4 linked regions of the Homo sapiens genome follow. The protein of the gene in region 3 interacts with the protein of the main gene of each other region in a biochemical or structural test. Each region holds a gene or a part of one and is shown on either strand. Other genes may lie near its edges.

Region 1 (7,336 bases), on a different chromosome or scaffold from region 3:
AAGAGAGTGATTCAGAAGGCACTGGAAGAGATGGAAAGTAAGGAGTGGCTAGAGAAGAACTCAAAGAGCTGCCCATGTTGTGGAACTCCCATAGAGGTAAATGTTTTGGGACAGACTTGGAGGCCATCAGACTTGCAAGGATGTTATGATTACCTTAAGAAGCCTTACTAGTCAATTTTATGACTTACAAAACACATGCTGGTATTATTACACCTTCTTACGTGGAAGGTGGAAATTTCACTATTAGATCTTGTTATCGACCTTAAATGTTTGTAGACTTCCCTTTTCAAAGTATTTGCTTACAGTGACCATTGTTCTCACATTGTATCCACCTCAAAATTGAATGGGTTGTAAGGAGGGCATACTAGAGCTATGGTCAACTCTTACCTCATCTATGTGATTAAAAAAAATCAAATCTGATCTCTCAGAACTATTTATCCTGGAATGCTGCACACCTGTTTAAGATACACTCAGGAATTAATTTGAGTCAAAATAATTAGACAGATATATTGCTTCTTGACAAAAATCTTAATATGTTTTAAAATCAAAATACATCTTAGCATTTGATTCTATTGTTCTAATCTGTTATGTCTGAACTGAACATAGTGGGCTCCAGTTAAGGAAACTAGGACTATATGTAATCACTTTTTTTTTTTTTTTTTTGATACTGAGTCTCTCTTGCCCAGGCTGGAGTGCGGTAGTGCAATCTCAGCTAACTGCAATCCCCGCCTCCCAGGTTCAAGGAATTTTCATGCCTCAGCCTCCCGAGTAGCTGGGATTACAGGCGCCAGCCACCACACCTGGCTAATTTTTGTATTTTTAGTAGAGACAGGGTTTCACCATGTTGGCCAGGCTGGTCTCGAACTCCTGACCTCAAATGACTCGCCCACCTTGGCTTCCCAAAGTGCTGGGATTACAGGCATGAGCCACCACACCTGGCCATATAATCACTTTTGACATACCTTAGCCCTATGACAGAGTGGAGGACTTGGTACCAAATATTTACTTAGATTTCTGTAAAAATTAAAAACCCACACGTTACATCCAAACATTTTAATATTAATCTAACTACATTTTCCAGTTATACTTGTGTGATTTTTATCTACTGCTTGTCAGAAGAGATTGTGCCAAGTAACTAATTGTAGTAACACTAGCTATTTTCTGTATTTTACTTCTAATGCAAAATAGAAAGAATTACATAGTCATCAGTGTGTTACATTGATATCTCAACCCTGCATAAGAAAAGGGAGAGGACCAAGACAATGTTGTACTGAATCATTTTGGCATGTGCTGTCTCTTCTGCTTTTACAGCCTTGATATTTTTCTCTTTCTATCCTTCCCACCAGAAATTAGACGGATGTAACAAGATGACATGTACTGGCTGTATGCAATATTTCTGTTGGATTTGCATGGGTTCTCTCTCTAGAGCAAACCCTTACAAACATTTCAATGACCCTGGTTCACCATGTTTTAACCGGTATGTATACACAGAATTCCTCAGGCTCACCAGCAATTTTTGGTACTTGATTTGCAGACCACAAATCCAGTGTTTTATTTAAGTACTTGGACTTATTTAGAGAATTCTCTTACATGTTTTCCCCTATAAAGGAATTTTCATATTATTTTCTCAAAAATGAGTTTTATAATGAGACTTATACACCATCTGGAAGTTTTTATAGTGAAAGTTTTCAAACACAGAAAATTTGAAAGGATAGGACTATGAATAGTAGGATACTTTCCACCCAAATTAACAGTTGATAGTACTTTGCCATATTTGTTCCCTTAACATTTTTACTGAACTACATGAAGTTGGAGTTATGATAATGCTTCAACTCTAAATATTTCCACGTTTCTCCTAAGATAAGGAAATGCTTCTACATAATGACAGTACTTTTAAAAAACTTAATGATAGTGGCATACTATTATCTAGTAAACAAACATATTTGAAACTTCCTAATTATTTCTGAAAATATCTTTTAAAGCTATTTGATTGAACCAGAATCTGAACAAGTTCAGTCATTGTATTTGGTTCTATCTCTTTAGTCTCTTAATACAGAAAAGCTTTGGCCCACCTTTTTTTTGTGTGTGTTTTGTGAACATTCACTTTTTTTTTTGTTGAGTCAGAGTCTCGCTCTGTCGCCCAGGCTGGAGTGCAGTGGTGCCGTCTCGGCTCACTGCAAGCTCCGCCTCCCGGGTTCATGCCATTCTGCCTCAGCCTCCTGAGTAGCTGGGACTACAGGCGCCTGCCACCACGCCCGGCTAATTTTTTTGTATTTTTAGTAGAGACGGGGTTTCACCGTGTTAGCCAGGATGGTCTCGATCTCCTGACCTCGTGAGCTGCCCGCCTCGGCCTCCCAAAGTGCTGGGATTACAGGCGTGAGCCACCACACCCAGCAAAACATTCACTTTTTGAAGAGTCCAGGTCAGTTATCTTATATAACGTCTTACCTTCTAGACTTTTATTTGTCCATGGTGTCCTTTAGCTTGTTTCTCTTATTTGCTATAAACTGGAAGTTAGGTCTAGACTGAAGCTTGATTCGATTTAGAATAACATTTTTTATGCTGATACTTCATGAGGAGTGATGTGTATTCCGTATTGGATCACATCAAGAGGTCCATGATGTCCCTCATTAGTGTGGTGCTCATTTCTACAGTTTGCTTTATTGTAAAGGCAAGTTTTCCATTTTGTTATTAGGAAGTAATCTGTGGGGTGATTCCTTGGCACAATGTGAATATCCTGTTCTCCAAGAGCTCTCCACTTTCAGCATCAGTTGATGATCTTTGTTAAGAGGTGTCTGTTAAGTAAACACATTGGTATTGTGAAACTGTAAGAGAAATTGAAGAAACAAGCCCTGCCATGAACTATTGGAAATCTAGTGTTGGAAATTGCATAAGTTGTAGATAACATAAGGAAAGGAAGACAAATTGACAGCTACAAAACATTCTACAAATGGAGGGTGCAAGGACTGTGAAGATAGAATGGAGTGATGAGCATGTAGTAGTAATAATAGTGTCTTGAAAGGGTTCAGTTTAAATTGCCTGACTTCCCCAGTCTTGCCTTATTCCATGTATTGTATACGCTGAGTATCAGTTTTGTGATACCTATCCCTCATTATTGTTTATCCTTGGCCCTGGAGAATTTGTCTGGATTCTAAAAGGACTGTTTTGTTCGTTTGTTTTAATTTGGAAAGGAGAGCTTTATTTCTCATAAAGAGTTGAAGCCGGCAAGGTGGCTGTTATGACAGGTTGGGAAGCATAGCCTTCAGCCAGAAGCTGGAAACAGACACTCTAAGGATGGGAAGAGGAAGACAGGGATTTATGCCCTACAAGATAGCCAGATATACATATTCAGTAAGGTATAGGAGGAGTCATGAATATTTATGAAAGGAGAAAAACGCTGCATGTGCAGTTGAGCTTCATTACCCTTCAGGGGACCCATGTTCAAAAAATGGTGGCATTAGCATGATCTCTGGGGGAGTTCTCTGATATCAAAAGGTGAAGCAGAGAACACGAAAACCTCAGTCCACATCCTCCATAGACTGGCTAGAACCACTCCATGGTCAGTGGTCTATTGGCAGGAAGAAATGCTGGTCGGTTTTTGTGCCAAAACTGCAGAAGGGAGGGGCAGCATCAGGCAGTTGGTTGATATCAGCGGTGGAGCAAGTCTTCCCAAAGGGTTGGTTTGAACCCTTAGGGAAAGAAAGCCTAATGGTGGTCAGTGAGGGAGGGGGGTATGACCAGGTGTGTCTGGCCTCCCATCCCATCATGGCCGGGAACTGTTTTCAGGGTTTCTCTGGGGTTCCCTTGGCCAGGAGAGGGTCTGTTCAGTTGGTTGTGGGGCTTAGGGTATCATTTTTATTTCTCATTTTCCCCTTTTTGGCTGAGATTTGCCAGAGGCAGCATTGATGGTCAAACTTATTTTGTCCCATATCATTGCTGGAGTGGTGTGGCTAACCTGCCTCGCCTCCATCTAGGCCCTCAGTGGGACCCCTATGGCCAAGGGACTTAAGGCCAAAAGACAGCCAATTAAATCTTCTAGGCCAGTGGGAATGGAGCTGGACAAGTACTCATCCACCTTAAATGGGCCATTCTTAACTAACTTTAGGGTAGATTGTTCAGAGGGACCCATATTTCAGCCCTCCTCAGTGCAATGATTAAAGGAGAAGAAAAGATGTACAAAGATGTTATAAGAGTACAAAAAATATTTTTCAGCGGAGAGGCAATTTATATTGTTTCGTTCAAGTGTATAAAAATGTACCTTTTTTAATGCTTCCAGGCTGTTTTATGCTGTGGATGTTGACGACGATATTTGGGAAGATGAGGTAGAAGACTAGTTAACTACTGCTCAAGATATGGAAGTGGATTGTTTTTCCCTAATCTTCCGTCAAGTACACAAAGTAACTTTGCGGGATATTTAGGGTACTATTCATTCACTCTTCCTGCGTAGAAGATATGGAAGAACGAGGTTTATATTTTCATGTGGTACTACTGAAGAAGGTGCATTGATACATTTTTAAATGTAAGTTGAGAAAAATTTATAAGCCAAAGGTTCAGAAAATTAAACTACAGAATATTAAATATTATAATGTGCCCAAAGCTCTGAATAGTTAAAAATTAAATATTTATTTTCTTCCCCAAGCTTTAGGTAAGGAGAAGAGGGGTCAAGAGTTAAACTTAGAGACCCTTTGTCTCTGAGAAGCATCCTTCTAAGACATTCTGTTGGAGTTCCCTCAGTACTATTCCTTACAACTGGAGTGGGTAGAAGCCTTATGAAAATTATACTGAGAACCTGATCTCGTTTACTCCATGTTAATCACATTCCTACCAACCTAAATTTCTGCCAAGTCAGTTCTCTTTGGAGGAAGCCCATTACTCCGTAACTGACTGGATGGTCCAGTGTCATTTTGATCTGCTTTTCAGAATGGAAATTTATAATATAAATATATGTTTTAATACCACAAACACTGTGGGGCACTTGATATTTATTAGTGGTGTATATGGTCCACTGGTTTCAGGCCAAATCTAGAATTTAGTGATACTGGCTCAGAAGAATTTAAGTTCTATTCAGCCTTCCTGGGTGTTAGAACCTAGATTCAAAATGGCTTGTCTTTGCTACTTTTGTTCCACATTCTCTCTCTTTACCTTTGCCCTACCTTCTGTTTGTAAGGATGATTTTAATATTAATTCCAGGAACACATGTTTTTATTTCCTCTGCTGGAATAGGAGAAAGCTTAATATATTCCCAAGCTGAATGTTCTTGAATTATATCTGCATTTACCACTGTATATGCATATAGTGACAGTATAACCTGTCTATACTACAGTAGTTCCAGTCCTAACTTTCTGAATTATTTTTAAAGATCTTCTCTAACAAGCTATGGGAATTTGGCTTCATACTCTTTCTTTGCAACAGCAGTGTTCTGGGTGATAATTTTGAATTGATACCTGTTCCTTTTTCTGGGTTTTGTTGGCTTTTTGAAAAATTGTCTTTCCTTATCATTGGTGGGAGGCTTGGTAGCAAAGTAACATTTTTTGGAAAAGAGGACAGAAAAATTGAACTACAGCTTGAGAACGTATTCTTTTTTTCCTACTTTGTTATTGCAAATTGAGGAATCACTTTTAACTGTTTTAGGTGTGTGTGTCCAGAGTGAGCAAGGATTATGTTTTTGGATTGTCAAAGAGGATGCTTAGTCTTAAAATAAAAATAAATTTAAAAATCATCTTATAATTAGAACAGAGTTGCTGCTATTTGTTCTGTCACCAAGGCAACTAATCACATTTTAAAACTGTTCGGCATATAACATATTCTTAAAGTAAGAAAAAAAAGGTCACAGAATAGCATCTCTTTTACCTGGGCTTGTGACTGAGCTTAGGTTTTAGGGCCCATATTTTGTTTAAACCAGATAGTTTCATGGTCTTCCATTCAGGACATTTTGTGTAAAAATTGAGGTTAATTTGCTGGGCACAGTGGCTCACGCCTGTAATCCCAGCACTTTGGGAGGCCTAGGCGGGCGGATCACGAGGTCAGGAGTTCGAGACCATCATGGCTAACACGGTGAAACCCCGTCTCTACTAAAAATACAAAAAATTAGCTGGGCATGGTGGCAGGCGCCTGTAGTCCCAGCTACTCAGGAGGCTGAGGCAGGAGAATGGCATGAACCTGGGAGGTGGAGCTTGCAGTGAGCCGAGATAGCGCCACTGCACTCCAGCCTGAGCGACAGAGCGAGACTCCTTCTCAAAAAAAAAAAAAAAAAAAATTGAGGTTAAAGAATAAATTAAAGATAAGAAATGGAAATTAAAATGATTTGTTCTACAGTATATACCTGAGAAGAGTGATTTCTGTGATCAAAGAGTTCAATTCAGATTTATTCAGAAAGAGCTACTCAGAAGCTCTATAGTTCGTGAGCTACTTGATATTTTCTAGAGATCATTTTATGTTAAGCTGTTATACATTGTTGATGATGTCATAGAAGTAGGAAAGAAGCCTTTATAATACAGTTTTATGAAAGAAATGGGAGCCTTTTTTCCCATTTATGATATTAAAAACAACACAGGTATTTGGTGTTTAGTCTCAAAAATTTGTTTGGTCACCTTAGTGATTCTTAGGTACAAAGTCTTCATCACTCAATTTTAACAAAGAAAATAGGGCTTATAAAGTTATACTTTTGAAGCATGAGTTATGAGCTAATTTTAAGATGTATAGTTTTGGTAGAGTACTTTTGTCTCAGTAAAATGAAAGATTTGGGTAACTCCCCAAATGCCCTGTAAAACAAATGGGTTTGTGGAAGGTTGTGGTGTCAGCAAAATATATGATAGAATAAAGAGTTTTGTACCTACCTTAATTTCATGAAAGCCTTTTTTTATGAGTGGGTTGAGATTTGCCATAAATTAGTATGAATTTCATGGGCCTTTTTTCTTTTTGAGACAGGGTCTCACTGTCACCCAGGCTGGAGTGCAGTGGTGCGATCATAGCTCACGGCAGCCTTGAGATCTGGTCTCAAGCAATCCTCCCACCTCAGCCTCCTGAGTAGCTGCGACTGCAGGCACATAGCACCATGCCCAGCTAATTTTTTTTTTTTCTTTTTAGTAGAAATAAGGTCTCGCTATATTGCCCAGGTTGTGAACTCCTGAGCTCAAGTAATGCTCCTGCCTCAGCCTGCCAAAGTGTTGGGATTTACAGGCATGAGCCACAGTGCCTGGCCTCCTGGGTGTTTTTGGGGGAGTTTGAATAGTCAGTGTCTCTTCATTTTTATATAAAAGGTTTGGGTCTAGAGCTGATAAATGAAAATAAGCTATCAAATAACTTATTTATTTATTTATTTGAGATGGAATCTCCC
Region 2 (3,235 bases), on a different chromosome or scaffold from region 3:
ATATTTTAGGTTTATAATCAGAAAAAAGTTAAAATAGTTAATGAAGATGCTTTAAAAGCCTGTGTACTTTAGAGAAGCTACTTAACACAAATTGGGTATCTAATGTAGGCTGGGCTGGATACTTCATTTTCATCAAATCTTTTTAAAATAATTGGTGAAATAACCTTTATTGAATATGGTTTTCTACATTTTTCACACTTCCCTCCTTCATAGGGTTGTGAAAATTTATTTCATATTCTAGATGAGGAAATTGAGGCACAGAGGTACACTTACAAAGATACAATAAATGGCAGAACTAAGATTTGAACCCAGGACTAAGTGTATTGCTTGTATTTATTTAATTAATTAATTTTTAAGAGACAGGGCCTCACTCTGTTGCCTAGGCTGGCCCTTGAACTCCTGGGCTCAAGCAGTCCACCTGCCTCAGCCTCCTGAGTAGCTGGGACTGCAGGCACACCATGCCTCCCAGTTGTTTTTAAACACTAATAGTAGTCTTTCATAAGGACACTTATAATAAAGGCAGAGCTGGAACCCACACTTCATTCCAGACTGCTCAGACTGAGTTAGTGTTAGAAAACTGAAAGTAACATTTTTATTACTGTATTTCAGGTAATCAGTATCTGTTTTTGCCACCAAATCGTTACATTTTCCATGGCGCTGAGGTATATTCAGACTCTGAAGATGACGTCTTATCCTCTAGTTCTTGTGGCAGTAACAGTGATAGTGGGACATGCCAGAGTCCAAGTTTAGAAGAACCCATGGAGGATGAAAGTGAAATTGAAGAATTCTACAATGGCTTAGAAGATGAGCCTGATGTTCCAGAGAGAGCTGGAGGAGCTGGATTTGGGACTGATGGAGATGATCAAGAGGCAATTAATGAAGCTATATCTGTGAAACAGGAAGTAACAGACATGAACTATCCATCAAACAAATCATAGTGTAATAATTGTGCAGGTACAGGAATTGTTCCACCAGCATTAGGAACTTTAGCATGTCAAAATGAATGTTTACTTGTGAACTCGATAGAGCAAGGAAACCAGAAAGGTGTAATATTTATAGGTTGGTAAAATAGATTGTTTTTCATGGATAATTTTTAACTTCATTATTTCTGTACTTGTACAAACTCAACACTAACTTTTTTTTTTTTAAAAAAAAAAAGGTACTAAGTATCTTCAATCAGCTGTTGGTCAAGACTAACTTTCTTTTAAAGGTTCATTTGTATGATAAATTCATATGTGTATATATAATTTTTTTTGTTTTGTCTAGTGAGTTTCAACATTTTTAAAGTTTTCAAAAAGCCATCGGAATGTTAAATTAATGTAAAGGGAACAGCTAATCTAGACCAAAGAATGGTATTTTCACTTTTCTTTGTAACATTGAATGGTTTGAAGTACTCAAAATCTGTTACGCTAAACTTTTGATTCTTTAACACAATTATTTTTAAACACTGGCATTTTCCAAAACTGTGGCAGCTAACTTTTTAAAATCTCAAATGACATGCAGTGTGAGTAGAAGGAAGTCAACAATATGTGGGGAGAGCACTCGGTTGTCTTTACTTTTAAAAGTAATACTTGGTGCTAAGAATTTCAGGATTATTGTATTTACGTTCAAATGAAGATGGCTTTTGTACTTCCTGTGGACATGTAGCAATGTCTATATTGGCTCATAAAACTAACCTGAAAAACAAATAAATGCTTTGGAAATGTTTCAGTTGCTTTAGAAACATTAGTGCCTGCCTGGATCCCCTTAGTTTTGAAATATTTGCCATTGTTGTTTAAATACCTATCACTGTGGTAGAGCTTGCATTGATCTTTTCCACAAGTATTAAACTGCCAAAATGTGAATATGCAAAGCCTTTCTGAATCTATAATAATGGTACTTCTACTGGGGAGAGTGTAATATTTTGGACTGCTGTTTTCCATTAATGAGGAGAGCAACAGGCCCCTGATTATACAGTTCCAAAGTAATAAGATGTTAATTGTAATTCAGCCAGAAAGTACATGTCTCCCATTGGGAGGATTTGGTGTTAAATACCAAACTGCTAGCCCTAGTATTATGGAGATGAACATGATGATGTAACTTGTAATAGCAGAATAGTTAATGAATGAAACTAGTTCTTATAATTTATCTTTATTTAAAAGCTTAGCCTGCCTTAAAACTAGAGATCAACTTTCTCAGCTGCAAAAGCTTCTAGTCTTTCAAGAAGTTCATACTTTATGAAATTGCACAGTAAGCATTTATTTTTCAGACCATTTTTGAACATCACTCCTAAATTAATAAAGTATTCCTCTGTTGCTTTAGTATTTATTACAATAAAAAGGGTTTGAAATATAGCTGTTCTTTATGCATAAAACACCCAGCTAGGACCATTACTGCCAGAGAAAAAAATCGTATTGAATGGCCATTTCCCTACTTATAAGATGTCTCAATCTGAATTTATTTGGCTACACTAAAGAATGCAGTATATTTAGTTTTCCATTTGCATGATGTTTGTGTGCTATAGATGATATTTTAAATTGAAAAGTTTGTTTTAAATTATTTTTACAGTGAAGACTGTTTTCAGCTCTTTTTATATTGTACATAGTCTTTTATGTAATTTACTGGCATATGTTTTGTAGACTGTTTAATGACTGGATATCTTCCTTCAACTTTTGAAATACAAAACCAGTGTTTTTTACTTGTACACTGTTTTAAAGTCTATTAAAATTGTCATTTGACTTTTTTCTGTTAACTTACATTGTTTAAGGTATATAATTTTTAAGTCTTACAGAATTTGTACAGCTTCGAATGCTATAGTATTAGATGCTTTCTTTCTCATACTACATTTCTTCATTTGGTTTATTACATTAGTCTCACCAGACCAGTACTTGCAAAACCCTGATGGTGCTGATCGTAGCAGGTGATGCATCACCACCAAGCATTTCAAAAACTATTTCAGCCATTCTAGGCTAGAGGCCTGAGCAAGTAAAACATGGAGAAAAGGCAGGGCAGGGCCTAAGAAGGATGTGACATGTCCTATGATAAAGGACCAGGAGTTTGGGATTTGAGAGAGAACAGGAAGTGGTGGATAGTGAAAATCCATCTGATGCAAAGGCTGGGTTAACTGAAAATCTGTTCTGGGATGCTAGGTCTTTCAAGTCTGAAGACTGCAGACCACATTTGGTATCAACTTTCTGAGGCTGACCTGAGAACCTACTTAAGCCATTAAAGGTTTTGAGGGCGAAAGTATTACTGA
Region 3 (8,918 bases):
ACATAGACTCAGGGACGGTGAGGTATGGTCATTTATGCCAGGACACAGGGACACAGACACATGGTCATGAGGACAGAGACTTGTAGACGCACACACATGACAAACGTGGACACAGGCCTATGGATACAGACACTGGAACAGATAAAGGTTTAGAAACATGGATACACAGACACACAACACAGATGAAGATATGTGGATGGATGGATGGGTGAATGGATGAATGGATGAATGGGTGGATGGACGGATGGATGGATGGGTGGGTGGATGGATGGATGGGCGAATGGGTGGATGGATGGATGAATTGGTGGATAGATGGATGGACTGGTGGATGGATGGTAGGGTAGAGTGGATGGACAGATAGATGGGTGGATGGATGATGGATGGATGGATGGTTGGATGAATGGATGGATGGATTGGTGGGTGGGTGGGTGGATGGATGATGGATGGATGGATGGTTGGATGAATGGATGGATGGATTGGTGGGTGGGTGGGTAGATGGATGATGGATGGATGGATGGTTGGATGAATGGATGGATGGATTGGTGGGTGGGTGGGTGGATGGATGATGGATGGATGGATGGTTGGATGAATGGATGGATGGATTGGTGGGTGGGTGGGTGGATGGATGATGGATGGATGGATGGTTGGATGAATGGATGGATGGATTGGTGGGTGGGTGGGTAGATGGATGATGGATGGATGGACGAAGGAGACCTGCTGGAAAAAGGAAAGCATTAAATCTGAAAACAAGGAAAGAAATATGGATTCTCCAATTTTACACCTACTCCAGCCTGGGTGACAGAACAAGACCCTGTCTCAAAAAAAAGAAAAGAAAAGAAAAAAAGTGCATTTACTGCCAGTGATTAGGGTGCAAACACGTAGATAGATAGATAGATAGATAGATAGATAGATAGATAGATAGATAGATCAACTTTGTGACTTTTTGCCCTAAAGGCTGTCTTAGAACTGAATCCTTTCAGGTGGGTGGGACTCTGCTTGTCCTGTGACCTTGGACAAGGAATAAAATGATGCAAATTCTGTGGGCCTCAGTGGCTTCTCTCTCTCTGTATATATATATATGTGTATATATATATATATATATTTTTAAAAATGCTTCCTGAAAATCTGCACCCTTGGCTGTGGCCAGGCCTGTTTCCCTGCAGCACCAGAACAGGAGGCTGGTTTTTCTTTTCTTTTTCTTTTTTTTTTTTTTTTTTGAGATGGAGTCTCACTCTGTCACCCAGGCTCGAGTGCAGTGGCGCGATCTCGGCTCACTGCAAGTTCCACCTCCTGGGTTCATGCCGTTCTCCTGCCTCAGCCTCCCAAGTAGCTGGGCCTACAGGCACCCGCCACCACGCCCGGCTAATTTTTTTGTATTTTTAGTAGAGACGGGGTTTCACCGTGTTAGCCAGGATGGTCTCGATCTCCTGATCTTGTGATCTGCCTGCCTCGGCCTCCCAAAGTGCTGGGATTACTGGCGTGAGCCACCGCGCCCGGCCGCGGCTGGTTTTTCAACAGAGTCTCAGGTGACAGGGTTGACATTCAGAGGCCTCATAGTACCAAAAATGCATGTGAACACTGGAATCCTACTCTGTGGGTTGAGATTCTCCCACCAGAGAGACTCAAAGGGACCTGATGCCACCTGTGAGTCATGTCTCTGCTGTGGGTCTCCCTGTGGGGGAACAGAAGGGATCAGACTGCCTGAGCCATATAAATTTTCTCTCCTCCTCTCCTGCTCTGTCTCAATCCCTGCCTCTTTCTCTCTCCCTCTCCTGAACTTATATTACCAATATGTCACAGATAGGCTGGGTGCAGTGACTCACACCTGTAATCCCAGCACTTTGGGAGGCCAAGGTGGGCGGGTCTTTTGAGGTTAGGAGTTCAAGACCAGCCTGGCCAACATGGAGAAAACCATCTCTACGAAAAAAATAATAAAAATAAAAAATAAGTCAGATATTGTGGCAGGTGCCTGTAATCCCGGCTACTCGGGAGGCTGAGGCAGGAGGATTGCTTGAACCCGGGAGGCAGAGGTTGCAGTGAGCCGAGATCGCGCCACTGCATTCCAGCCTGGGCAACAGAGTGAGACTCCGTCTCAAAAAACAAACAAACAAACAAAAAGTTACAGATAAATACAGCTCAATACAGCAGCACTGAAACAGGCAGACTGGGATTTGAACTTGGGTCTGCGTGATTCCAAAGCCTGTGCTTTCCCCTGCCTCGCTGAGCAATTCGCTTCTAGAATTTGTGGCTTTTAATATTGGCACAGGTGACAAATGGCACAAGTAGAAGGCAATTCCTTGCCACGTTGCTTGCCATAGCAAAAGATTGGAAGCCACCAAGGAGCCCAGCAAAAGGATACTGATTAACTAAATGGAGGTGCATCTGTTCAATGCAACCACTGAAAAAACCCCGCTGAGGAAGCTCTGTGTGCCCAGGTGGAGCAGAGTTTATCTGGTGTGTCTGCTGTGCTGCTACTTATGAATAATTTGAAGTGAGGTAAAAGAGGATTTCTACATATTTGTGCACGTGTAAAATACCGGAGGGCACGCAAGGAACTGGGGACTCTGGTTCCTTCCAGAGGAGAACGGGGTGCTGGGGATGGGAGTGAGAAGGACAGTTTTCTCTGTTGTCCTTGTGTACTTTGTAAATTACATAATATATACTATATATGCATACATGATATTTATTTTTATTTAGTTTTTTTTTTTGAGACAAAGCCTTGCTCTGTGGCCAGGCTGGAGTGCAGTGGCGCGAGCTCAGCTCACTGCAACCTCTGATTCCCAGGTTCAAGCGATTCTCCTGCCTCAGCCTCCCGAGTAGCTGGGATTACAGGTGTGCGCTACCACACCCAGCTAATTTTTATATTTTTAGTAGAGACAGGGTTTCACCATGTTGGCCAGGCTGGTCTCAAACTCCCGACTTCAGGTGATCCATCTGCCTTGGCCTCCCAAAGTGCTGGGATTACAGGTGTGAGCCACCGTGCCCAGCCAATATTTATTTTTATTTATTTATTTTTCTTTTTAGAGGCTACTTGCTCTGTCTCCCAGGCTGGAGCACAGTGGCGTGATCATAGCTCACTGTAGCCTCAAACTCCTGGGCTCAATTGGTTCTCCCACCTCGGACTCCCAAGTACTTGGGACCACAGGCACATGCCAACATGCCCAGCTAATTTTTGTACTTTTTCTTCTTTTTTCTATTTTTTTTTTTTCATAGAGACAGGGTCTTGCTATGTTGGCCAGGCTGGTCTCAAACTCCTGGGCTCAAGCGATCCTCCCACCTTGGCATATATAATATTTAAAACTGAATTGTAAACTGGGTATGGTGGCTCATGGTGGTAATCCCAGCTCTTTGAAAGGCCGAGGTGGGAGGATCACTTGAGCCCTGCAGTTCAAGACCAGCCTGGACAACATAGTGAGACTCTGTCTCTATAAAAAAAAAAATAAATTAGCCAGGCATGGTGGTGCACACCTGTAGTCCCAGCTCCTCAGGAGGCTAAGGTGGGAGGATTCCTTGGGCCCAGGAGTTTGAGACCAGCCTGGACAACATAGTGGGACCCTGTTTCTACAAAAAATAGAAAAATTAGCTAAGTGTGGTGGCACAAGCCTGTAGTCCCAGCTACTTAGAAGGCTGAGACAAGAGGATCTCTTGAGCCCGAGAGGTCGGGGCTGCAATGAGCTGTGATCGCGCCACTGCACTCCAGCCTTGGCGACAGAGTGAAATCCTGTCTCAAAAAAAAAAAAAAAAAAGTCTGAGAACTCATGTTTCTTGAGGATTTACTGTGAGCCAGGCACCGTGCTGAGGACTGGCCACTTACATCTTATAACCCTAGGAAGTAGACGGTGTGCCCATTTTGCAGAGGAGAAAACTGAGGCTCAGAAAGGTGCAGTCACTTGTGCAAGGTGATCTAGTTGGGACTCAAAAATATTTCATGTTGCCAGGACCACCCCACCCCCGCAGGCCTCTCCCCAGCTTCTCTCTCTCCCTTCTTTCCGGGGCTCCTAGGATCCTCTCTCCTTCATCTCCCTGCTTTGCTGAGTGCCAGTCAGAGCTCAGAAGGAAGGGCAGTACAAAGTCCAGCCTGGTGCTCTGTGGCAAACATGTTTATCTGATCCTAGAGCCAGGCTGCCTGATGCCTCCCCTCCCCCATCTGCAGCCATCACCCTCCTGTGCCATGTCCTCCTGTGTCCTCCCTTCCTCCCTCCTTCCCTTCTCTCTCCCACAAAGAGAATAGGGTCAGTCTTCCTCTCACCTCTTGAGAGCCTCTCCTGGGCTCAAACCAAAGATTTTCTATGTGCCCCTGTCCATCTGATTCCATGTCTGTCTGTTTCTTTCTCTCTCTCTCTCTCTCATTCTCATTCTCTCATGCCAGGTCAAATTTAAGCTGAACTTGAAAATAAAACAAAGGCCAGCCACCCTGCACAAATACATGTGCAACCCTTAGAAACCGAAGACAGGCTTTTGAATGTGAAAATGGAAAGCAAACTGTTAAAGTGAGCTGATACGAACGTTCCACTTTTAAACAATTCCTAGTAGAGTTGGGCAAAAAATCCACAACAAAAAAGTGAATTTTAAATGCCAGTTAGGAGTCAGAGAACCAAGAGGGCATGTCTTTCCCTTTTCTGGGAGAAGCCACCTGTGCCACTTTTTTCTAGAACCTACTGAATCGATGTCTCTCTCTCCCTACCCCCCACTCCCTTGCTATCACTCTCTCTCTTCTGTCTCTCTGTGTGTCTCTTACACAAACACACACACACACACACACACACACACACACAGAGTCTTCAAGGGCCTGACTATTTTTGAGGGCAGATTCTCCAACTGTCCTAGCTCAGAACTAAGAGGCCAAGGCTGGGCGTGGTGGCTCATGCCTGTAATCCCCACACTTTGGGAGGCCGAGGCGGGTGGATCACATGAGGTCAGGAGTTAGAGACCACCCTGGCCAACACAGTGAAACCCTGTCTCTACTAAAAATACAAAAATTAGCTGGGTGTGGTGTCGTATGCCTGTGGTCCCAGCTACTCAGGAGGCTGAGGCAGGAGGATCACTTGAACCCGGGAGGCGGAGGTTGCAATGAGCCAAGACTGCGCCACTGCACTCCACCCCCAGCAACAGAGTGAGACTCCATCTCAAAAAAAAAAAAAGAAAGAAAGAAAAAGGAAAGAACTAAGAGGACAAGTCTCCAGGCATCTCCTGCTTTGACTCTAATGGGTTTGAGAGTCAAACCAATGTGGGTTCAAATCCCACCACTGTGACCTAGCCACGCGTGCTCTTGCATGACCCACATCTGCCCTGTAACGTGGGGTAAATCCACCCCTACCTCACACTGCTACTGGGAAAATTAAATGAGCTTCAAATAGGGAGGATGAACTTAGGGCAATGCCTGGTGCACAGTAAGTGCTGAATTTGTGGAATAATATTGTCATCATCATCATCTTAACAATGCAGCCCTGGAGACCCTTGGCCCCACACAGCAGAGCCCAGGAGAAGTGAAGACCCGCCCACATCTTCCTCCTCTCTCTCCTACCCTTTCCAGGGTCAATCGGATGTCCAAGGCTTTGAGCCTCTTGCCCTCTGGCCCCTGGGGTTTCAGGGCATGCAAGGTTGTGGTATTCATCTCCACATCTGGAGGGGAGCTGACTTCTCAGTGTGGGGGCTTTAGACCTGGCCTTGATTCTTTGCTTAACCTCCGTGTGCCTCAGTTTCCGCATCTGTGAAATGGGGCTAATGATATTTCAGACTTCAGAGATGGGGAGGAGGAAAAAATGAGCTTAGCGCATTTTGTAAGCCCTTTGTGAACTCCAAAGCACTGTATGGAAGTGAGTTGATGGTCAACTTAAACAGCAGGAATGACTGGGGAGGGGAAAGTGTGACCTCGAGGTTGCTGTATGGAGCGTGAGGTAGGAGGACCCAGGTCCAAGTCCTGGCTTGCCTTCAGTCATTTGGAAGAGTTTCGTTCGGTAAGGCACTGCCTCTCTCAGCCTTAATTTGCTCATCTGTAAAATGGGATCACTAATAATAACTGCTGTATATTGCAGTTACTACATGTTTACTCTACAAGTGCCATGCCATTTAACCCTGTGGACAAGGGCTATTGTCATCTCTACCCTGCAGACGAAACTGAGGCTCAGAAGTATAAAATCACCTGCTCAAGCTAGAAAGGGGCAGAGCTAGGATTAGGATGCAGGCAGTCTGGCTTTTGTTGGGGACGTCAGATCCTCTGTCCCCCCCCCCTCCTGCCGTGGCTACTGTTTTCCTGAGTCTCAGTGCCCTGATGCTGCCTGATGGGCAGGATCAGAATACTTCAAGATTGGGGTTTGAAGGCTGAGGGCAGTGGCTCTGAGTGCCTGTAATCCCAGCACTTTGGGAGGCCGAGGCGGGCGGATCACCTGAGGTCAGGAGTTTGAGACCAGCCTGGCCAACATAGTGAAACCCCATCTCTACTAAAATACAAAAAATCAGCCAGGCGTGGTGGTGCATGCCTGTAATCCCAGCTACTCGGGAGGCTGAGGCAGGAGAATGGCGTGAACCCAGGAGGCAGAGCTTGCAGTGAGCCGAGATCGCGCCATGCACTCCAGCCGGGCCGACAGAGTGAGACTCCGTCTCAAAAATAACAACAACAACAACAAAAAAGAAACACGCTGGGGTTTGAGCTGATCAGGGACAGAAAGGACCCGGGAGGACACCCAGGAAGGAACTCTGGGTCCCAGTTTCTCCCTTGGCCACGTCTCAGGCTGCTGGGCCCTGACCAACAGGGCAGCAGATATCTTCAGGGCCTCAGACAATCCCAGTCACTCACTCATTCCTGCTGTGCATCAGCCACTGGGCAGGATGTGGGTACAAGTGGTAAATAAGGCAACACGGGCCTTGTCCTTGAAGAGCTTCTATTTTCATGGCAGGAGATAGAAAACAAACAAATCAGATGATCACAAGTCTTGACAGGGAACCAGAGAAAGTGAACAACAGTAGTGGAAGAGAGTGACGGGGGTGGGGCCCCCTTTTGGATGGAGCAATCAGGGAGCTGAAGGAGAAGGAATCGGCCATGGGAAGATCTGGAAAGAGGTTCTGAGCAGCAGGAAGAGCACGTGCAAAGGCCCTGGGGTGGGAATTGGCTTGGGGTACTGAGGAACAGCAAAGCCAAAATGACTGCAGCAAAGGCCGAGAGGAAGAGAAAGACCTGGGAAGAGATCCAGGAATTTGGTGGGGTGGAGGGAGGGGAACGAAACCAAGGCAGGGAGTTTGGACTTTATTCCTTGGCCAGGGAGGGAAACTGAGGCAGAAGGAGAGGAACAGACTTTCCCAAGGTCACTCAGGGAGCTAAGGGGGAGATCTGAAGAAAGAGCTCAGGTTCCTGCTGTGGCCACCAACATGGGGCACCCCAGGGAGGCCTGGGACCCAGGACCCACCCCGGCTTCTTCCCAGACACTGACTTCTCCCGGGAAACAGCTTCTACTAGACATTCTGCCTCTGTACCGTCTTCCCAGCCTCAACCTCCCCAATGGCCCAGGCCTTCAATAGGGGTCCCCCGCCCCTCTCTCCCTGGCTCCTTTCCTGACCCTGACGCTGGAGGCCCCACTTTTTTCACTCAGGGCGTTTTCCGATCCCTTTTGTTACCTGAACAATAAGTAACCCAGGTAGTTAGTTATAAACTCTGCAGGAACAAGGAGCTGGTTGATAATTTATAGCAACATCTCAAATTTAAATGGAAAGTAAATAGCATGCTGTTAGCATTAAAGAAAACCCAATCGGGGCAGGCGGGAAGCACTCCAGCCTCCTTGCAAGCTTGGGGCGCCTCATTCTCTCCCGTGCCCCTTCTCCCAGCTGGGTCTGAGCCCCCGCCCCCCTGGCTCCTCCGTTCTGCTTCTCCCAGCTTCTCTGTCCATCTCCCCCAATGGCCTCTCTCTACACTCTCTGCCTCAGCTTCCAGGTCTCTGCTGGTCCCTAGGAAGCACTTTGACCTCTGCTTCCCCTTCAAATGCTGTGGATCAAGCCTCCCCAACCCCACCATCCCACCAAAGGGGGCTGCTGACCGAGAGAGCTCACTCAGCCAGGTAAGAAAGCATCCCCTGCCCCCACCCTCACCCCAAAGCCCCCAGTCCCATCTGGGGCCCTGGGCAGGTCAGGCCCAGCCCCACCCCGTCAGGTTGCCTTCGCCCTGGGTCTGGGATGCCTGACTCTTTGCCCCTCCCCTGCAGCTCTGGAGTCCTTTGCCCTCCTCTTCCTGCCAAGTCAGGGGGCCCTGACTGCTCCCCTGCCCCCTGTCCAGGCCCTCGGGAGGCTCCCTGAGGCCTCTGGGAAAGCAGGAATCCACCAGCCCTCCCCCACCCCAGCTGGGATCAGGACCTTGGACAGAAAAGAGATGGGCCCCTTTGGAGCATCTTTGGGGCTCGGTCTCTCTCTGACTCCCTGGCCACCCCCTGCAGGCCTCTGGTCCCCGGTCATAGCAATTGAGAGCACCGAACAGAGTAGGTTTGGGGCCTCAGTTTGGTGAACTTAGTCTAGCTCCTTCCCGGCTCTAAGCCCCAGTTTCCCCATTTGTGAAGCAGAGTCACCAATAGCTTCTGCCCAGGACTCCTCACCATGAAGGGAAATTATTCCTGTGAAACCTCAGCACAGCGCCCAGGAAGTAGTGAACCTCCTCAAGCAGGCGCTGTAGGGTGGAGGTCAGGGAGCCGCTGGGGAGGGGTGGCCCCTGTAGCCCCCAGGCCATCCTTCCTTCTCCCCCACACCCCCATCCCCCACCCCCACTAGGTGGGAGGTGGGTTGGCCCAGATCTTTCCAGGCCACCATTCCTACAAGTTAATGATCACAGACCTTATCAGAGCCTTTTGCCATTTATAAATTTATAAAACAAAAGAGAAATAATAAAGCACATGGGTAATTAGTAACTAGGTCAGCTCTGCTGAGGAGAGGGGAGGCAT
Region 4 (9,650 bases), on a different chromosome or scaffold from region 3:
ACAAAATATCTCTAGAAATCTACCCTCTCTGATCCTGTGAGTCTTCAGAGCTAAACCTGGTTCATACAAAACAGTCCTCCTACCCTGACTCCATGAGCACTTCCTCCAGATGCACATGCTAAGTCAGAAAAAAAAAAAAAAAAAAGGCATCCTGACCAGTCAGTTCGGCATCTTGGTTTACAGATGGGGAAATTGAGAACCAGAGAGGAGACAGAACAGCAACATGCCCTGCCTTATCCAGGGCTCCGTCTTCTACTTTCCCTCCGTGTCCTGATAGTATTTGTCCTAACCAGGAGCTGAAGGCCCAAAGGCCCTGTTCCCATAGGAACGTAGGATACTTGTAAGAAATCCCTGCCCGTATTTCCAAAGGCCCCACCAGAGCCAGGTCCCCAGTTCACAGTGCTAAGCCTAGTTCTGGTTATTTTTAAAACCAGCTCTCTGCTTTGTCTCCACCAATCACCTCCCCTTGACCCTCACCCACTCTCCTCCAACCCAACCCCTTCCACCTCCGGGTCTGCACCTTCCCACACCCTAAAGCCAGAAATTCTTGAAGAATGATCCTGGCTCTGAGCATCAGATTCCAGGCAGGGACGGGATTTCCCAGTGGTCATCCGATGCTCAGTCCTCCATGGAAACAACGTGTGGCTTCAGAGGCCTGGTGGAGGGGGGACCCTCCCTTCCTCCTCACATCTCAATCCTGGCATCTGCCTCCAAATCTCCCCTGTCTCAATCCCTCAGGCCTCTGCCTGGCACCTCCAGCCCACTCTCTCTCTCACACCTCTCCTGTATCTTCTTTTCATCTCTCCAGCAGTACCTCTCCTGATGTCTCTCTAAACCCTCCATTCAAACTCTCCAACCCCTCACTGTCTGCCTACTTGTGGCCCCAGGCCCACCGGGAAATATCTACTCACTTGCTGCTTACTACTTACCCTTCCTCACCTGCCAGCCTCACAGAGGGAGAGGAGGCTCTGGGATTCAGAACAGGCACCCTTCACACTTCTGACACTCATCCTCTGTACGCTTGGGCAAGTCACTTCCCTTCTCTGGGCCTCCATTTCCCCATATGTGGAGGAAGAAGGTGGACTAGTGGATTCTAGACTGCCTTGCAGCTCTGACTTTCTGTGATTCTGTGATCTGTTCTCATCTTGCTGCAAAGCTACTGCCCCACAAATAATCAATGCTGATTTGCATGTAATTTTTATGCATCTATGTCCTATTGAAATGCACAAGCATTTGCCACCCCCCCCCACCCCCCCCCACCCCCGACCTCATCCTCATCAATAATACCCAGAGACCCAGCCTAGGAAAATATATGGTGAGACCTGTTTGGAGCAGCCAGAGGCCCCCACCCTTCCAGACCCTTCTCCTTCTTGCTCCTCTATTCCCAAGCACATGAGAATCCAGAATGGAAAAATTGCTTTGATTTTAGCCAAGCACCATGGCAGCCCAGGTCAGCCCACCTGCAAAATCAGCAGGGACTAGAAGATGCTGAAGGCCAGAGGGCTGTGACTGGGTGTGCAGCAGAAGGGGTAGTAAGGAGCAGGGAGCAGGTGAAGGGGATTTCTGAGCATTTTGAAATCCAGCCGCTACCATGCAAATGACATCAGCCCAGCGTGCAAATAGACAGAATCAAGTTGAAACAGTCAGGGTTGGGGAGCCAACAATGTGGCCCTGGAGCCCCAGTAGGGGATAAGGGCTTCCTCTGGAGGGCGCAGGACTGCTGGAGGAGGAGGCTACAGTCAGGGCAGGGGGCCCTGTGTGCCCAAGCCAGCAGGGATGGGGATTAGGGCCGGACGCCCTGCTGTCAGGTTGGAGCTGATGGATTGCCGCTGGTGGCGGAGCACAAAGGCTGTTCTGTGCTTGGCACCAATGTGTTCCCATCCATCAGAGGGCAGCTTGTGGGGGTGGAGGGGTGTACAAGGGGAGGAGGACCAAGCCTCTAGATGAGGCGTCTCCACAGCTCGGCTCTGAGAGAAGAACAAGATGGGTACAGGGCCAATCCCCCCCATCAGGGTATGGACAGGTCAAAGACACCTGGGTCACTCTATCAGCTCAGACCAAGAGGGTCTGTGCCCCACATCGGGCTTTGACGTGGTCCCCAAACCACTGTACTCAGACATACACAAACACACACAGAGACAGGGATTCACAGAAACCAGGCACACAAGGTCACCCTAACCTCCCGGCTCTGCCCTCATGTTTGGTCAGAGGCAAACATCATCCAGACACAAGGCCAAATGCATGCCCAACAGAGCTTCTGCAGGCAAGCGCCGAGTCTAGGCACTGCTCTTGCCCCAGGTCAGGTCCCAGCCAGGGAACTGACACAGAGTGGGTTCTCAGTAAATATGTGTTGAGCAGATGAAGGAGTGAATTAATAAATTCCTTCTCTGGATTACGTCAGCACTTTCTCTAGCCTGCTGTTTCTACCTTGGTTAGATGACTTTGTGTACTCATTCTCCTTACTCATCAGTGAACATGCTGAAGGCAGAGAGGGCATGTCTTAGTAACCCCAGCACCTGGCACAAGGTGCTGAATGCACAGTACTTGATAGAAAAAAAAATGAATGAATGAATAAACACATTCGGGGTGGAGCCAGGTTTTCCCTCCTCCATTCCTGCTGCTGTGGTCCCCTGCAGGGCACACAGAAGTAGAAGAGAAGACAAAGCAAGAAAAGGGAATAACATTTACCAGGTGTATCCATGTGCCAAGTACCCTATCATTTAATACAGCCATTCCCCTATTGCTTGCATACTCGCCATCCTTTGCTAGCCTGAAACATGCACCCTCTCCCAGTCGAATCCATCCTCCTGCCTCTGAAGAGGTTGTTCAGACCTTCATCATCTCATTCCTGGATGACCATCACACTGTTCTGTGCGGTCTCCTTGCCTCAGCTCTCAAGTCCTTCCCTGCCCAGCTGGGCCTCCTCCCCTCTGTGCAAGTTTGTCTCAAATCACCCCCTTACCTGAACCCCAAGCTCCATACAAACAGCCTACCCAACGTCCCCTTCCCCTGCTCCCCTCTCCTCATCTGAATCCTACCAGTTCTCCAAGAGCTGGCCCAGCATGCTCCCCAAGCCTTCTGCAGAGCACCAGTCTTCAGCAGTTTTGGCTTCCCAAAAATTCCCAAAACGCTTTTGAAGAAACTACTGGTTTGCAATTGATTAAAGCCCCCATGTTTGCTGTAGAATCAACATAGCTCTCCCTTGTCTTGTAATCCAGCTTTCACATGTCAACCCATGCTCACCAACTAGACAGTAAGGTCTGGAAACCACCATAGAGCAAGCCAGCTCTGCCTCCATTTTAGAGGAAGAAGACACATTATTTAGAGGTAAGTCACACTGGATCCTGGAATAACAAAAGATGCAAATATGGGGGTTCCTATAGTGGCTTCAACATGACTTCTTTTCTCAGGGCTCATAGGACTGGAGGGTAAACTGAGGCTTTTTTTTTCTTTTTTGTTTGGCAGGGGATGTGTTAGAAATAGAGACTCTTCTTCAGCCCAGCTGGTCAGGGGAAAGCAAAGTTTAGAACCCACACAGTACCTATGCTGCTACTTTTTTTTTTTTTTTTTTTTTTTTTTTTTGAGGCAGAGTCTCGCTGTGTCACCCAGACTGGAGTACAGTGGTGCGAACTCGGCTCACTGCAACCTCCTCCTCCTGAGTTCAAGTAATTCCCTGCCTCAGCCTCCCAAGTAGCTGGGATTACAGTGCCCACCACCATGCCTGGCTAATTTTTGTATTTTTAGTAGAGACAGGGTTTCACCATCTTGGCCAGGCTGGTCTTGAACTCCTGACCTCGTGATCCACCCGCCTTGGCCTCCCAAAGTGCTAGGACTACAGGCATGAGCCACCACGCCCGGCCTATGCTGCTACTTTCTATCATGCTGGTAAGGCCAAGAACAGAATTAAGACCTCACTGCTCTCCCTCAACATGCTTAGGGTTCTTTTGTTGTCCAGCTATGTTCCCTCCTTCCCTCCATTTCCTGTCCCAAAAGGACATCAGAATTCTCCTGGCTCCCTGCTGTGAATAATGAGAGGAAGGAACACTGGTTCTTCACATGCCTCGCAGATCTCATGTTCCCTGTGAAGTCTCCCATGAGTCCCCAGCAGGGTTCCCCTTCCTCTTATTGTCCTTGCCACTGGCTTGAACTTGTCAGTTTGATCTGTCGTAGGATAAGGAGCAGGACATTAGTCTATGGGGAGGAAAAAACTGGGAACAAAGGATAAAAGATAGAGGGAGCAGATTGCAGCCCAAAGCTACACGTCAATGGAACGGGCTGTCTCCTGACGTGAGCAGAAGCTGAACAGTAGCCGCCTCGGAGGAGATTTGGGCATCAGGGGCTAGGTAGAAAGAGGTGATCACCGTTGTCTATCAGATGGTAAGTTCGAGGGCAGGGATCCTGTCTGGGGTGTCCCTATAATCCCCAGCCCTAAGACTGAGCCTTGTTCACTGCTAGTGTCTAAGGTCTGCCCACTGCATTGGAAGGAATTTGTCCTCTCAGACCCTGAGGCACCTACTGAGAGGTGACCATGGCCTGAGAGGCCTGAAGATTAAATAGTCCCTGCTCTACCTGACATTTGAGACCTGCATGATACGTGTAAAATTGATGGCTCAGACAGTAAGAGGCAGAACAACCAAGCCCGGTGGCCAAGGAGAGAGGAGATTTAAACTGAGTTTGAAGGGCTCTGTTTTTTCTACTTTTTCACCCCCGTCCACATTAATGAGCCAGGAAAATTCTGGTGTTGGAAAAAGAGTTGAGGAGGTAACATAGAAGGACAGATCAATGGTCCGGAGTGAGACAGGGAGGAGACAGGGAGCTTAGGACATCTTGACCTTGCCGCTCTGGGGAAGGTGGCAACGTGTAGGCTGTAAATTCTAATCTCTGCTCTGACCACGGCTGCTGTATTAAAGAGGAAATTTCTCTTTACCCCTGCCAAGAAAACCAAAACCCAAATAATTTCTCTTGCCTCAATTTACCCCCCCAGATGAGACCTAAGAGAACATACAGCTCAAAGCTGCTTGGGAACCCCAAAAGTGGAATCTGTTAGCTGCTCTGAGTCTTGATCCTTCTTATCCCTGGATACTGAGTGCCCATGAATGCCCAGAATCTGAAGCAGTCCCATTCTTTCCGGAGGGAAGTCTTTAAAAGAGTCTCATCGACTGATGTAGTGTGGTTAAGGTGCTGTCAGGAAGCAAGGAGATGGATAAGTTGGCTCTTAAGGCCCCTTCCAGCCTAAGCCTACCCTTCCTTGTTCCCTCCTCCCCCTATACCCACCAGCTTCTTCGGGACTGCAAGGAGACAGCAGGCAGGCCGCCCAGCTAGGAGTAATTGAAAGGAGCAGATGAGAGGGGAATGTGTCCTCCCCCAACGCCCCTGCCCCACAGGGGCTGCTGAGAAATGAAAACTAATCAAATTACACCCGACGGCCTCCCGACCCGTGCACAGGAGCCCGCCTGGGCCAGGGGCAGGCTGGCAGGGTGGGGTGGGGGCCATGCGGGAGAAAGAAGGGGAATCACATCTAATCCACTGTAAACGCCTTGATGTGCAGCAACAGCTTAGAGGGGGCTCAGGTTTCTGTGGCGTTGGCTATATTTATCTCTGGTTCCATGCCAGCGGGGAGGGTTTAAATGGCACCCAGCAGTTGGCGTGAGGGGCTGCTGGAGCTTGGGGGCTGGTGGCAGGAACAAGCCTTTTCCGACCCCATGGAGCTGTATGAGACATCCCCCTACTTCTACCAGGAACCCCGCTTCTATGATGGGGAAAACTACCTGCCTGTCCACCTCCAGGGCTTCGAACCACCAGGCTACGAGCGGACGGAGCTCACCCTGAGCCCCGAGGCCCCAGGGCCCCTTGAGGACAAGGGGCTGGGGACCCCCGAGCACTGTCCAGGCCAGTGCCTGCCGTGGGCGTGTAAGGTGTGTAAGAGGAAGTCGGTGTCCGTGGACCGGCGGCGGGCGGCCACACTGAGGGAGAAGCGCAGGCTCAAGAAGGTGAATGAGGCCTTCGAGGCCCTGAAGAGAAGCACCCTGCTCAACCCCAACCAGCGGCTGCCCAAGGTGGAGATCCTGCGCAGTGCCATCCAGTACATCGAGCGCCTCCAGGCCCTGCTCAGCTCCCTCAACCAGGAGGAGCGTGACCTCCGCTACCGGGGCGGGGGCGGGCCCCAGCCAGGGGTAAGTGGCCATCCCATCCCCCTGCCCCAAGGGGACGGGGCCAGAGGGAGGCACCTGGACAGCCTCAAGACCCCAAGAGGGGCTCAGAGGGTTGGTGCAGGTGCCAGACAGGGTCGAGGGGCTGCAGGAGCCCTTCCCTGGTCAGAGCTGGGCTATCCAGCTGACCTCCTGTGTCCTGTGTTCTTTCCAGACAAGATAAAGGCAGTGGGGAGGAAGTGCAGAAGGGGTTGGGGTGGGGAACATAGGACTGAAGAAAGATCAGGAGCAAGGCCACAGTCAGCCCAGGTGAGGGTGAGGATTAATCCCAGCGCCTGAGTCAGAGCCTAAAAGGCCAGGCCAAGTTCACCAGAGAAGACTGCTTTGCCCCCATCCTGGGTGTGGCTGAGCAGAGAGAAAACCCACTCAGTCTCATTGGAACTCCAGCAGGCCTGCACAGAGCGACCTTCACTGGGCCACAAAATCTGTCTCCATCACCCTTATCGCCAGAGTCAGGAGAACCAGGGACCCCTTTAAGCTGGTGTCCTGTGAGAGCAGAACCACCACCCAGGATGGAAGCCAGGAAGGCCTGGAAGCAGGGCCTCTGGGGTGTGAGAGGAGCTAGTTACAAAGATTCTGGGGTTGGGGATGGCCTGGGCTGGAAGGCCACAGCCTGTGGCCCACCCTCCAACCCCACCACAGGTACTTCTGCCCACTGGGACTAGGCAGAGAGAGACATCAAAGAATGGCTGTGCCCCGACCTTGGGCCTTCGCCCTGTCTTGCAGGTGCCCAGCGAATGCAGCTCTCACAGCGCCTCCTGCAGTCCAGAGTGGGGCAGTGCACTGGAGTTCAGCGCCAACCCAGGGGGTAAGTAAGGCCTGACTGGTAACCTTGGCTCCAATCCCTCAGTCCCTCCCTGGGCCAGGTTCTCCCCTCTTACCTTATTCCTTGCTCCGGTCCTCTTCCCTTGGGTCTCTCTAGGGACCTGCTGACTCCAAGGCCCAAAGGGTGGGCTGGGAGGTTCTGTGTGCCCCTGCAGTCTTGACCAGCAAAGGAGTGATAGTAGCTCCTGCAGCTCCCCAGCTGATGCCTGGTGGTTGACCTTCTCCACAGAGAGGACAATGTCCCTGCCCCAGGGGTCCCTGTGAAGTGCTGAGTCAGTGCTGCAAAACTGGGCCGAGCAAAGGGCAGGTCCAGTCTCTGGGGAGCTCCATCCTGCTCCAACTTGAGTGGCTGCTTCCAAACCCTACCTACTAGGGGAGTTCAGAAAAGAGGCGCATACACACACACACACACACACACACACACACACACACACTCACAGAGCATGGGGAAAGGCAGGGACTAGGGAGTAGAACTCCGGAGCTTTGTCATTCATCTGTCCTGGAAAACCTCTGTCACCCCAAGGGTCCCATCCTCTATTCTGGGCCTCAAGAACCCCCACTGCTCACCCAGGTACCACCTTCCCACCTCCCCTTACAGATCATCTGCTCACGGCTGACCCTACAGATGCCCACAACCTGCACTCCCTCACCTCCATCGTGGACAGCATCACAGTGGAAGATGTGTCTGTGGCCTTCCCAGATGAAACCATGCCCAACTGAGATTGTCTTCCAAGCCGGGCATCCTTGCGAGCCCCCCAAGCTGGCCACAGATGCCACTACTTCTGTAGCAGGGGCCTCCTAAGCCAGGCTGCCCTGATGCTAGGAAGCCAGCTCTGGGGTGCCATAGGCCAGACTATCCCCTTCCTCATCCATGTAAGGTTAACCCACCCCCCAGCAAGGGACTGGACGCCCTCATTCAGCTGCCTCCTTAGAGGAGAGGGCATCCCCTTTCCAGGGAGGTAAAGCAGGGGACCAGAGCGCCCCCTCGTGTATGCCCCAGCTCAGGGGGCAAACTCAGGAGCTTCCTTTTTATCATAACGCGGCCTCTAATTCCACCCCCCAAGTGAAACGGTTTGAGAGACGCAGTGCCCTGACCTGGACAAGCTGTGCACGTCTCCTGTTCTGGTCTCTTCCCGATGCCAGTGGCTGGGCTGGGCCTGCCCTGAATTGAGAGAGAAGAAGGGGAGAGGAACAGCCCTCTGTTCCCAAGTCCCTGGGGGGCCAAACTTTTGCAGTGAATATTGGGAACCTTCCAGTGGTTTTATGTTTTGTTTTGTTTCGTGTGTTGTTTGTAAAGCTGCCATCCGACCAAGGTCTCCTGTGCTGAAGTTGCCGGGGACAGGCAGGGAAAAGGGGTTGGGGCCTCTTGGGGGTGATTTCTTTTGTTAACAAAGCATTGTGTGGTTTTGCCATTGTTTTGTATTTTTTTTTTTTTTTTTTTTTTTTGCTAACTTATTTGGATTTCCTTTTTTAAAAAATGAATAAAGACTGGTTGCCAGAAGAGTGTCGGTGATGATGCAGAGGGAGGGAAATGACTGACAGCCCTGCCCCTTCCCACTGAGCAGTCCAGACACACCCTAGTGGGTGGGGCTCCACAGCGCTAAGGGCCTCATCTTGCTGGTGGTCACTAGGCACTGGGGACCCCTGCTCTTTTCACCATGATAAAGGAAATCGAGCATGTCTGGACCTCAGTCTAGGTGGAGACCAGATTCCACAGACATCCTTGTGGGACACGGAGGACAACTGGCTATGACTATACTTCAAAGCCACTGCTCACAGGCTGCTGTGCTCTGTGTTATGTCCCAACAGGTCCGCTGGTTTCAGTTAACTGAGCACCTCGTAAGCCCAGTGCTCAGCCCACAGCCAAGGTGCAGAGCTAGAAGTTGTGGTTTCCCTTCCCTAGTCCCCACCTCTGCCCTGGTGTCACAATACCAGGAGCCCTGTAGAGAAGTGGGAGGTGAGGAAGGGGGATCAGACACTGTCATTTCCTTGCGGGCCAAATAGCATGGCCCCTCCCCATTCTCCTCCATTCCCTTCAGGCCGAAGGGGATTGTGGTTCCTGCTTGCAGCTCCCAGCATGAAGGAGATTCAGATTTAGCTCGGGGAGGGTAAAGGGGTCCACAAAGAACAATCGAAGAGAAGCTGGGGTTCTCTTCATTTGGGGTGCTATTTTCAAACATTAGCTTCCTGAGGTTAGAAGGTGGGTGGGAAATTGAGAACAGAGATTTTTGGGTAGACATTACATGAGGATTAACTGGGGAGTTAACAGGAGCTAGAATTCAAACGGAACATGGACATCTACTGAAAACTTTATTAATTCCAACTGCCTGGGGCTAAGTTCATCAGATTTATTGCAAATTATAAGTTTCAGAATCATCACCGAAGCAGGGATTCAGAGCATGGTACGTTCCAGCCCTGCTTAATCCTTCGGGGCCCTTGACAACGGACTTAACCCAGTGTTGCCTGAGGCTCTAGCGACCACCCTGCACCAGCTCCGGGCTCAGCTGGGCCATCTCTCCCACACCCACCCTCCTGACCTTACTGCTGGAGAGGAGAGTTACCACTGTGCCCCCCGAGTTTCTTCAGAAACTCTGCCTAAGGAAAAGAATCAGAAGA

Evidence for each region.
Region 1: the proteins of HNF1A (region 3) and RNF14 form a complex in vitro, tested with the Homo sapiens proteins (one study listed by BioGRID).
Region 2: the proteins of HNF1A (region 3) and SIRT1 form a complex in vitro, tested with the Homo sapiens proteins (one study listed by BioGRID).
Region 4: the proteins of HNF1A (region 3) and MYOG form a complex in vitro, tested with the Homo sapiens proteins (one study listed by BioGRID).

Annotation. Positions count from the first base shown.
Region 1 is NC_000005.10:141,983,457-141,990,792, forward strand, and holds the end of RNF14 (E3 ubiquitin-protein ligase RNF14), read left to right. Parts: coding exon 1-96; intron 97-1,346; coding exon 1,347-1,477; intron 1,478-4,276; coding exon 4,277-4,334; 3' UTR 4,335-6,836; downstream 6,837-7,336. UniProt on the Homo sapiens protein: E3 ubiquitin-protein ligase that plays a key role in the RNF14-RNF25 translation quality control pathway, a pathway that takes place when a ribosome has stalled during translation, and which promotes ubiquitination and degradation of translation factors on stalled ribosomes.
Region 2 is NC_000010.11:67,915,656-67,918,890, forward strand, and holds the end of SIRT1 (NAD-dependent protein deacetylase sirtuin-1), read left to right. Parts: intron 1-609; coding exon 610-938; 3' UTR 939-2,735; downstream 2,736-3,235. UniProt on the Homo sapiens protein: NAD-dependent protein deacetylase that links transcriptional regulation directly to intracellular energetics and participates in the coordination of several separated cellular functions such as cell cycle, response to DNA damage, metabolism, apoptosis and autophagy.
Region 3 is NC_000012.12:120,979,774-120,988,691, reverse strand, and holds part of HNF1A (hepatocyte nuclear factor 1-alpha), read right to left. Parts: intron 1-8,918. UniProt on the Homo sapiens protein: Transcriptional activator that regulates the tissue specific expression of multiple genes, especially in pancreatic islet cells and in liver. Binds to the inverted palindrome 5'-GTTAATNATTAAC-3'.
Region 4 is NC_000001.11:203,082,014-203,091,663, reverse strand, and holds MYOG (myogenin), read left to right. Parts: upstream 1-5,651; 5' UTR 5,652-5,702; coding exon 5,703-6,173; intron 6,174-6,935; coding exon 6,936-7,017; intron 7,018-7,090; exon of another isoform or gene 7,091-7,292; intron 7,293-7,632; coding exon 7,633-7,754; 3' UTR 7,755-8,535; downstream 8,536-9,650. UniProt on the Homo sapiens protein: Acts as a transcriptional activator that promotes transcription of muscle-specific target genes and plays a role in muscle differentiation, cell cycle exit and muscle atrophy.